2 linked regions of the Homo sapiens genome follow. The protein of the gene in region 2 purifies or fractionates together with the protein of the main gene of each other region. This does not show direct contact. Each region holds a gene or a part of one and is shown on either strand. Other genes may lie near its edges. The genes, in order: OTUD7B and N4BP1.

The links.
Region 1: the proteins of N4BP1 (region 2) and OTUD7B purify together in Homo sapiens (affinity purification with mass spectrometry, with the first as the bait; one large-scale study listed by BioGRID). This does not show direct contact.

The regions. Positions count from the first base shown.
Region 1 is NC_000001.11:149,944,497-149,948,310, reverse strand, and holds part of OTUD7B (OTU domain-containing protein 7B), read left to right. Parts: intron 1-975; coding exon 976-1,060; coding exon of another isoform or gene 1,061-1,087; intron 1,088-3,245; coding exon 3,246-3,814. UniProt on the Homo sapiens protein: Negative regulator of the non-canonical NF-kappa-B pathway that acts by mediating deubiquitination of TRAF3, an inhibitor of the NF-kappa-B pathway, thereby acting as a negative regulator of B-cell responses.
Region 2 is NC_000016.10:48,603,453-48,607,266, forward strand, and holds part of N4BP1 (NEDD4-binding protein 1), read right to left. Parts: intron 1-3,814. UniProt on the Homo sapiens protein: Potent suppressor of cytokine production that acts as a regulator of innate immune signaling and inflammation.

The sequences.
Region 1 (3,814 bases), on a different chromosome or scaffold from region 2:
TGATCAAGGCTGGGTGCGGTGGCTTATGCCTGTAATCCCAGCATGTTGGGAGAAACCACCATCAGAGTGAACAGGCAACCGAGGCAGGCAGATCACCTGAGGTCGGGAGTTTGAGACCAGCCTGGCCAACATGGAGAAACCACATCTCTACTAAAAATACAAAATTAGCCAGGCGTGGTGGTGCATGTCTATAATCCCATCTACTCGGGAGGCTGAGGCAGGAGAATAACTTGAATCCAGGAGGCGGAGGTTGCAGTGAGCTGAGATGGTACCATTACACTCCAGTATGGGCAACAAGAGTGAAACTCCATCCAAAAAATAAATAAATAAATACGTGATAAAAATAGTTTGCTCTGAGTTTTTGCCTTTCTGGAATTTAATAGCAAGAAAAATATGTTCCCTACCCTCTCAGCCCCCACTCTACCTCCCTGTGGCTTGTTAAGCCTTCCTTCTGCCTCCTGCATCAACTTCCTGATGGAGAGTGTATGAATGCAAAAGCTCCTCCCTTAGCACTTACCTAGTGCTTCACTCTCTGGGCTCCTGCCACTGGGTCCCAGCTAAGAGAGTTTGATTTTAAAATCCAGAGTTTATGGCTTTTTAAAAATAACCTCTCACCTATTTATCAAAAGCTCCTTCTAAATAATATTTACAACAACAACAATGATAATGGCTACTATCTAGTATTTCCCATTTTCCAGACACTGTGCTGGGCTCTTTCCAAACACTGTTTTAATCTTTACAACAACCCTACAGGATAGATATTATCTATACCCATTCTCAGCTGCAGCTGAGTTTCAGGGAGGTTGAAGTGACTTGCTCAAGGTCATAAAGCTTATTAATTGGTGGAGAAATAGTTCAAACCCAACCCTATTTGAGTCCTAAGCCATGTAGCCCTCTCCCACCCTTTCTCCCAACTATATCAAATTGCTTTGCTTTTAAAAGGTGACAGTAATTTGTTTTTTCTCTTTTTCATAGTGTAATTCTGTCCCTAGAGGTCAAATTGCATCTGCTGCATAGCTACATGAATGTGAAGTGGATCCCACTGTCCTCTGATGCACAGGTGAAGACTTCTCCCACATCTACCCTGGTGTGTCTTCATTTCATTTTCAGTGACAGAACAAGGAGATCTGGGATGGTTTCCTTCTGAATCTATTCTGAGTGGTGGCTTACAATTCAAGGTTAGAAGTAACTAGAAGATGTCAGATAAGTTCCAAAGACAATTTTTCCTGTTTTTATTGTATTTTTTATTTTTATTTTTGAGATGGAGTCTTGTTCTGTCACCCAGGCTGGAGTGCAATGGCACAATCTTGGCTCATTGCAACCTCCGCCTCCTGGGTTCAAGCGATTCTCCTGCCTCAGCCTCCTGAGTAGCTGGTATTACAGGCATGCGCCACCACGCCCAGCTAATTTTTGTATTTTTAGTAGAGGACAGGTTTCACCATGTTGGCCAGGCTGGTCTCGAATGCCTGACCTCAGATGATCTGCCCGCCTCAGCCTCCCACAGTGCTGGGATTACAAGTGTGAGCCACCGCGCCTGGCCTTTCCTGTCCTTTTTTTTTTTTTTTTTTTCAGAGGAAGTCTTGCTCTGTCAGCCAGGCTGAAATGCAGTGGCACAATCTTGGCTCACAGCAACCTCCACTTCCCAGGTTCAAGTGATTCTCCTGCATCAGCCTCACGAGTAGCTGGGATTACAGACGTGCGCCACCACACCCGGCTGATTTTTGTATTTTTAGTAGAGACGGAGTTTCACCACGTTGGCCAGGCTAGTCTCGAACTCCTGACCTCAGGTGATCCACCCACCTTGGCCTCCCAAAGTTCTGGGATTACAGGCATGAGCCACCACACCCAGCCCTTTCCTGCTTTTTAAAAACCGTTAGTCTCCTGTTTTCCACATCTCCTCTCCAGCCAGTCTCTGTTATCTGATACTAAAACATATATATATTTTTTGAGACGGAATCTTGCTCTTGATGCCCAGGCTGGAGTGCAATGACACGATCTCAGCTCACTGCAACCTCCACCTCTTGGGTTCAAGCGATTCTCCTGCCTCAGCCTCCCGAGTAGCTGAGATTGCAGGTGCCCGCCACCATGTCCAGCTAATTTTTCTATTTTTAGTAGAGATGGGGTTTCGCCATGTTGGCCAGGCTGGTCTTGTGATCCGCCTGCCTTGGCCCCCGAAAGTGCTGGGATTACAGGCGTGAGCCACCGCGCCTGACCTAAAACATATTATTATTATTATTATTATTTTTCTTTGAGATGGAGTTTCACTCTTTTTGCCCAGGCTGGAGTGCAATGGTGCGATCTCAGCTTATTGCAACCTCCGCCTCCTGGGTTCAAGCGATTCTCCTGCCTCAGCCTCCTGAGTAGCTGGGATTACAGACATGCACCACCACGTCCGGCTAATTTTGTATTTTTAGTAGAGATGGGGTTTCTCCATGTTGGTCAGGCTGGTCTGGAACTCCCGACCTCAGGTGATCCACCCACCTCGGCCTCCCAAAGTGCTGGGATTACAGGCATGAGCCACCGTGCCTGGCTTAACATATTCTTTAAGAAAGGTTTTCTGGACTGTTTGTTGAACTTGAGATGATCATTATTTCGTCCAAAGTCTTCTGTAGATAGACCTCTGTTTTGGGCACTAGGAGACGGAGTAGCTTAAAGAGCTCCTAATTCAGTGGGCTCTGAGTTAGAACAGGAGCACAGGAGTAGGGTCAAATTGATAACTCCAATGCAGAATGTATAAAAGTTGAGGGGATGCAAAGTGGCTAGACTTGGTTAGTTTTGATTAGTCAAGACTTTCTTGAGATTAGTTTCGAGCAGAATTTGGCATAGAGAAATGTATAATAAAGAACATTCTAATGTCTGGGCCTCTCACCCGGAAGCCACGTATCATATGGTTGCTCATTGTTCTAAATGAACAGTAAGGCTTTATTCTACTATCTCCTTATTACAGAAGGGAGTCAGATTGCAGTGGGGGAGAAAGCTGACTGACTGGAACCCAGGAAGGACAGTGCCATCCTGGGTGACCCTTCCCTCATCATGACAGAAGCCCTTCTCTGGAGCAAGGCAGTCACTAGGCAATCACTCAGAGGACGGAGTTCATAGGTGTCCATCCTTTTCTACCTGGCTAATTTCTATAGCCATGGCTGCAGGGAGCTCCCTGAGCCAGATGGATGGGCTAGAGGTCCCTGGGGGATTCCCCCACCCCAGGCTGCTGGGATAACTGTCAACAGTGTTCTTGTCTCTTCCAGGCTCCTCTGGCCCAGCCTGAGTCCCCCACCGCCTCAGCTGGAGATGAGCCCCGGTCCACTCCTGAGTCTGGAGACTCAGACAAGGAGTCAGTTGGCAGCAGTTCCACCAGCAACGAGGGCGGCCGGCGGAAGGAGAAGTCAAAGCGAGATCGGGAGAAGGACAAGAAGAGAGCAGATTCTGTGGCTAACAAACTGGGCAGCTTTGGCAAAACCTTGGGCAGCAAGCTCAAGAAGAACATGGGGGGCCTGATGCACAGCAAGGGTTCAAAGCCTGGAGGGGTGGGGACAGGGTTGGGAGGAAGCAGCGGCACTGAGACACTGGAGAAGAAGAAGAAAAACTCACTGAAGAGCTGGAAGGGTGGCAAGGAGGAGGCAGCTGGGGATGGGCCTGTGTCTGAGAAGCCCCCAGCTGAGTCTGTTGGTAACGGAGGGAGCAAGTATAGCCAGGAGGTGATGCAGAGCCTGAGCATTCTGAGGACTGCCATGCAAGGGGAGGGGAAGTTTATTTTTGTTGGAACCCTGAAGATGGGTCACCGTCACCAGTATCAGGAGGAAATGATCCAGCGCTA
Region 2 (3,814 bases):
TCATGGAGACGCCAAACAAGTAGCTGTGCCATTTACTTCCAATTACTTCTTTTATTTGTTAACCAGCCAGGCTTCACTGACTGTTAGCACCCAGTTTCTTGCTATGGACTTTGGTGACCCCAGCATAGCACTAGCTCCAGATACTTCACATTGCCATCTCCTCTACTTTCTCACTTCTCTAAGATGTATGGAACACTTGTAGCTCACCCACAACTACTGAGGCACCCCTTGGCCCTCAGAGTCATCCTCAGAATTCCTTTACATCCAAGATTCTAAGCTCCGAAATTACTCTGATTACAACCTCCAGAATTCTCCAATACTTAACTTCCCTGTGTACATGACCCCCTGGGTTTCAGAGGGCACAGGGTCAAAGGTCTTGTCCCTCCCTTAATCCTTGCAGCTCACTCCGCCCTTTCTGCTCTCATCTGTTTCCCTGTCCTAGCTTGAACAAGGCTGACCTCTTCAGAAATATTTCCTAAGCCCCACTGTGCCTTGCTCTATTGCACTTCAGACCCCCTTACCTCCAATCCTTGTGTCCTGGCTTCACAAACCTCTTGAGTGGAGGAAAACATTACCTACTTGAGAGTTTCTGGCTCAAGTGACACTGTAAGTTCATACTATCTAACCTTCCTTGGCCCTTACTTCATCCCAGTCCTTTTAAGTTCTTAAGTTTTCAGTCTGCAGCAGTTCCACTGCACCTAACACATCCCACTATTTTGGAGCTCTTGCGCTCCCTCTGGGGATGAACTAGCACTGAGACTGTACTGTACGCCACTGGGGCCTTCAAATGCCCTCTTCAAGTATTAGAAACATATGGGCTAGGCATGGTGGCTCATGCCTGTAATCCTAGCACTTTGGGATGCTGAGGTGGGAGGATCATTTGAGCTCGGGAATTCAAGATTAGCCAGGGCAGCATAGTGAGATGCCATCTCTACCAAAAATACAAAAATACACCATGGGCATGGTGGCACATGCCTGTAGTCCCAGCTACTCAGGAGGCCAAGAGGATCGCTTGAGCCTGGGAGGCAGAGGTTTCAGTAAGCTGAGATCATACCACTGCACTCCAACCTAGGGACCCTGTCTCAAAAAGGCAGTCCAAAGCTCAGGTCAAAAAAACAAAACAAACAAACAAAAAAAAACAAAAAAAGGTAAAAAAAAAAACAAAAACAAAAACTAAATTAAAACAAAACGAAACAAAGCTCAGGTCCACTGACATGTTTTGTTTAGCACATATAACTGTTTTTTTAAAATATGTAGTTTAAAAATATTTTATTCATATAATTCGATGAATTCGATGTGTATGATTTTTAAAATGTAAATTAGTGACCACTTAAATACAATATTTTATATAATTAAATCTGGATTCCTTGCTTCTCTTAGATAATAAGACTGGACATCACTGAGCCCTACCATGTAACTGACTAATGCGATACGCATGGGAAGCTGCCCTCTCCAAAAGGGCCACACGGCTTCATTCACCACAGTCCCTCTTCCCGACCACCCCACTTCCCTACACAGGTTCCCTGCCTGGTCCCAGGAAGCATTCTGAGTTTGTGGTTCTTTGATCTAAAAGAAGGGTTCTTTTTTTTTTTTTCTCAAGACAGAGTTTTGCTCTCGTTGCCCAGGCTGGAGTGCAATAGCGTGATCTTGGTTCACCGCAACCTCCGCTTCCCTGGTTCAAGCAATTCTCCTGCCTCAGCCTCCTGAGTAGCTGGGATTACATGCATGCGCCACCCCACCTGGCTAATTTTGTAATTTTAGTAGAGACAGGGTTTCTCCATGTTGGTGGGCTGGTCTCGAACTCCCGACCTCAGGTGATCAGACCACTCGGCATCCCAAAGTGTTGGGATTACACAGGCGTGAGCCACTGCGCCCGGCCTAAAAGAAGAATTCTAACTCGTCTCACCCCCACGGCTGAGATCCCCTCAACCTCATCCCTTTCCACCACTGCTTCACAGGGAGGGTCCCACCTCTGCTTCTTCACTTTAATCTCTATTTGCGAATGAGGCAACAGCTAGCCAGTACCTCCCTTTTGTCTCTGAAATTCAATCCTCACAATCCTTTGCTCCCAAGATGTCTTCCAGCACTGACTTCTTTCCCCTCTCTCTGGGCCCCCTATGGACAATGCCCTCTTATAAGGACTTCTCACTCTTAGACATTGCCTCTCTAGCCCCTGTATTAATGCCAAATTGCATAAAAGTTACTCAACCCTTATTTTCAATTTCTGTACTCTTACTATTGAAAACCAGCAACAGACCACACTGAGCAGCCCCAGCCCAGAGGTGTAAACACTGAGGCATTTGTGGAAATGTAAATTTCTCATGTCCCCCTAACTCTTCCACGACTCTCCACTGACTACTTGCAGGTAAAATCCATGTTCTTCAGCAGGCCCCAAGCACTTTGTGATCCACTGGAGGAATCTGTGATGCAACTGCCCTCTTCCATGCCCCTGTGATTGCACACAGCTTCTTCCCTCTGCCAGGACCTCCCTGCTACCTAGGAAACCGGCTGGCAGAGCAACCCTTCCATTCCTGTGTTACAGAAACACCTTGCACACATTGCAGTTGTTGTATGTATCACACTTTACTGTATCTTCCCCATGTCTGTCTCCCCTAAGAGGCAACGTGATTCTTGAGGTCAAGGGGCAACCGTCAATACACTCCCTGGCACCAGAGAAGTCTTCCTTAAATGTTGATGAGCTGGTGGCCCCACCAGTCAATAGGTCAAACAACTTAACCATCCCTCCTGCCACCTGGCTTAAAACCGACCCCTAAATCCCTACATCCACCACACAGCTGCCCTGTCCCTGTAAAAACCTTACCACCCCCTACCCCCTCATGCCCAAGGCTAACTTGCAACAATGTTCATTTCACTGTTGGTCTTCTGTTTCAGGAAGATTCCATGCTTCTCAAAATCCTCACTGACTATTAAATAAGGTCCAATGACCTTAGCCTGGCATTTTGGTACCTCAGCCTTCATCTTTCCCAGGAGCACCTGGACACCTTTTACCATGACACTCCATGTTTTCTGGGCCTTTGCTCCACAACCACCTCTGTCTGGAAGGTCAGGTACCTGGGAATATTTGGCTCTTCAAAAGCCAGCTGAAGTACTGCTTTCTACGACAAATCTTCCCTTTAACAAAAGTGGTCACTGGTACAGAGTCAGTGCCTGTTTTTCAACCTGCATGCGCACTATCACTGTCTACTAGTAGTTTCCATTTCGCCCCTCTGCAGTCATTGGAGGCCCACCTAACTAAGCTCCACATTCTTCTCTACTCTAGCATTTGCAAAAGGCAGTGAATTCACATTTTAAAGGCAAAACACAAGCAAACCACTTGGTGGGACACAAGACAGTTCATCTTATCTTATTTTGAGCAGAGACACTATAGTTGAAAAACTCTTCTTTGCTCTAAATCTTCCTTCCTCTAAATCTGCTGCTCTTCCACAGCCTAACTTAAAATATTATAGATGTTGGATCAAATTTGCTTTCCTGTTCTTAGTTTTTAAAATCAAAATAATGGTTTTCTCCTCCTTCAAGAAAGTAAAACAAACTCCAAAACAAATTCAGAACAAAAAAGCCCTGATTGTGGCATTCAACTCTTACCTATGAGTCTCAAGGGGAGAAAAAAAAGAATTTCTTACAAGTGGGAGGGTTGACTTATGAGTAATACATATCACAAAGATCAACAAGCAGGAGCACATACTAGCAAGAAACTGTAAGACACACCTTTCCCAAACAGCTTGGCTAAACTGTGTGGCAAGGACAGCCAAGAAAACAGGCATTGGGCAGGTCTGGCAGGACCAGCAGGGCTCTT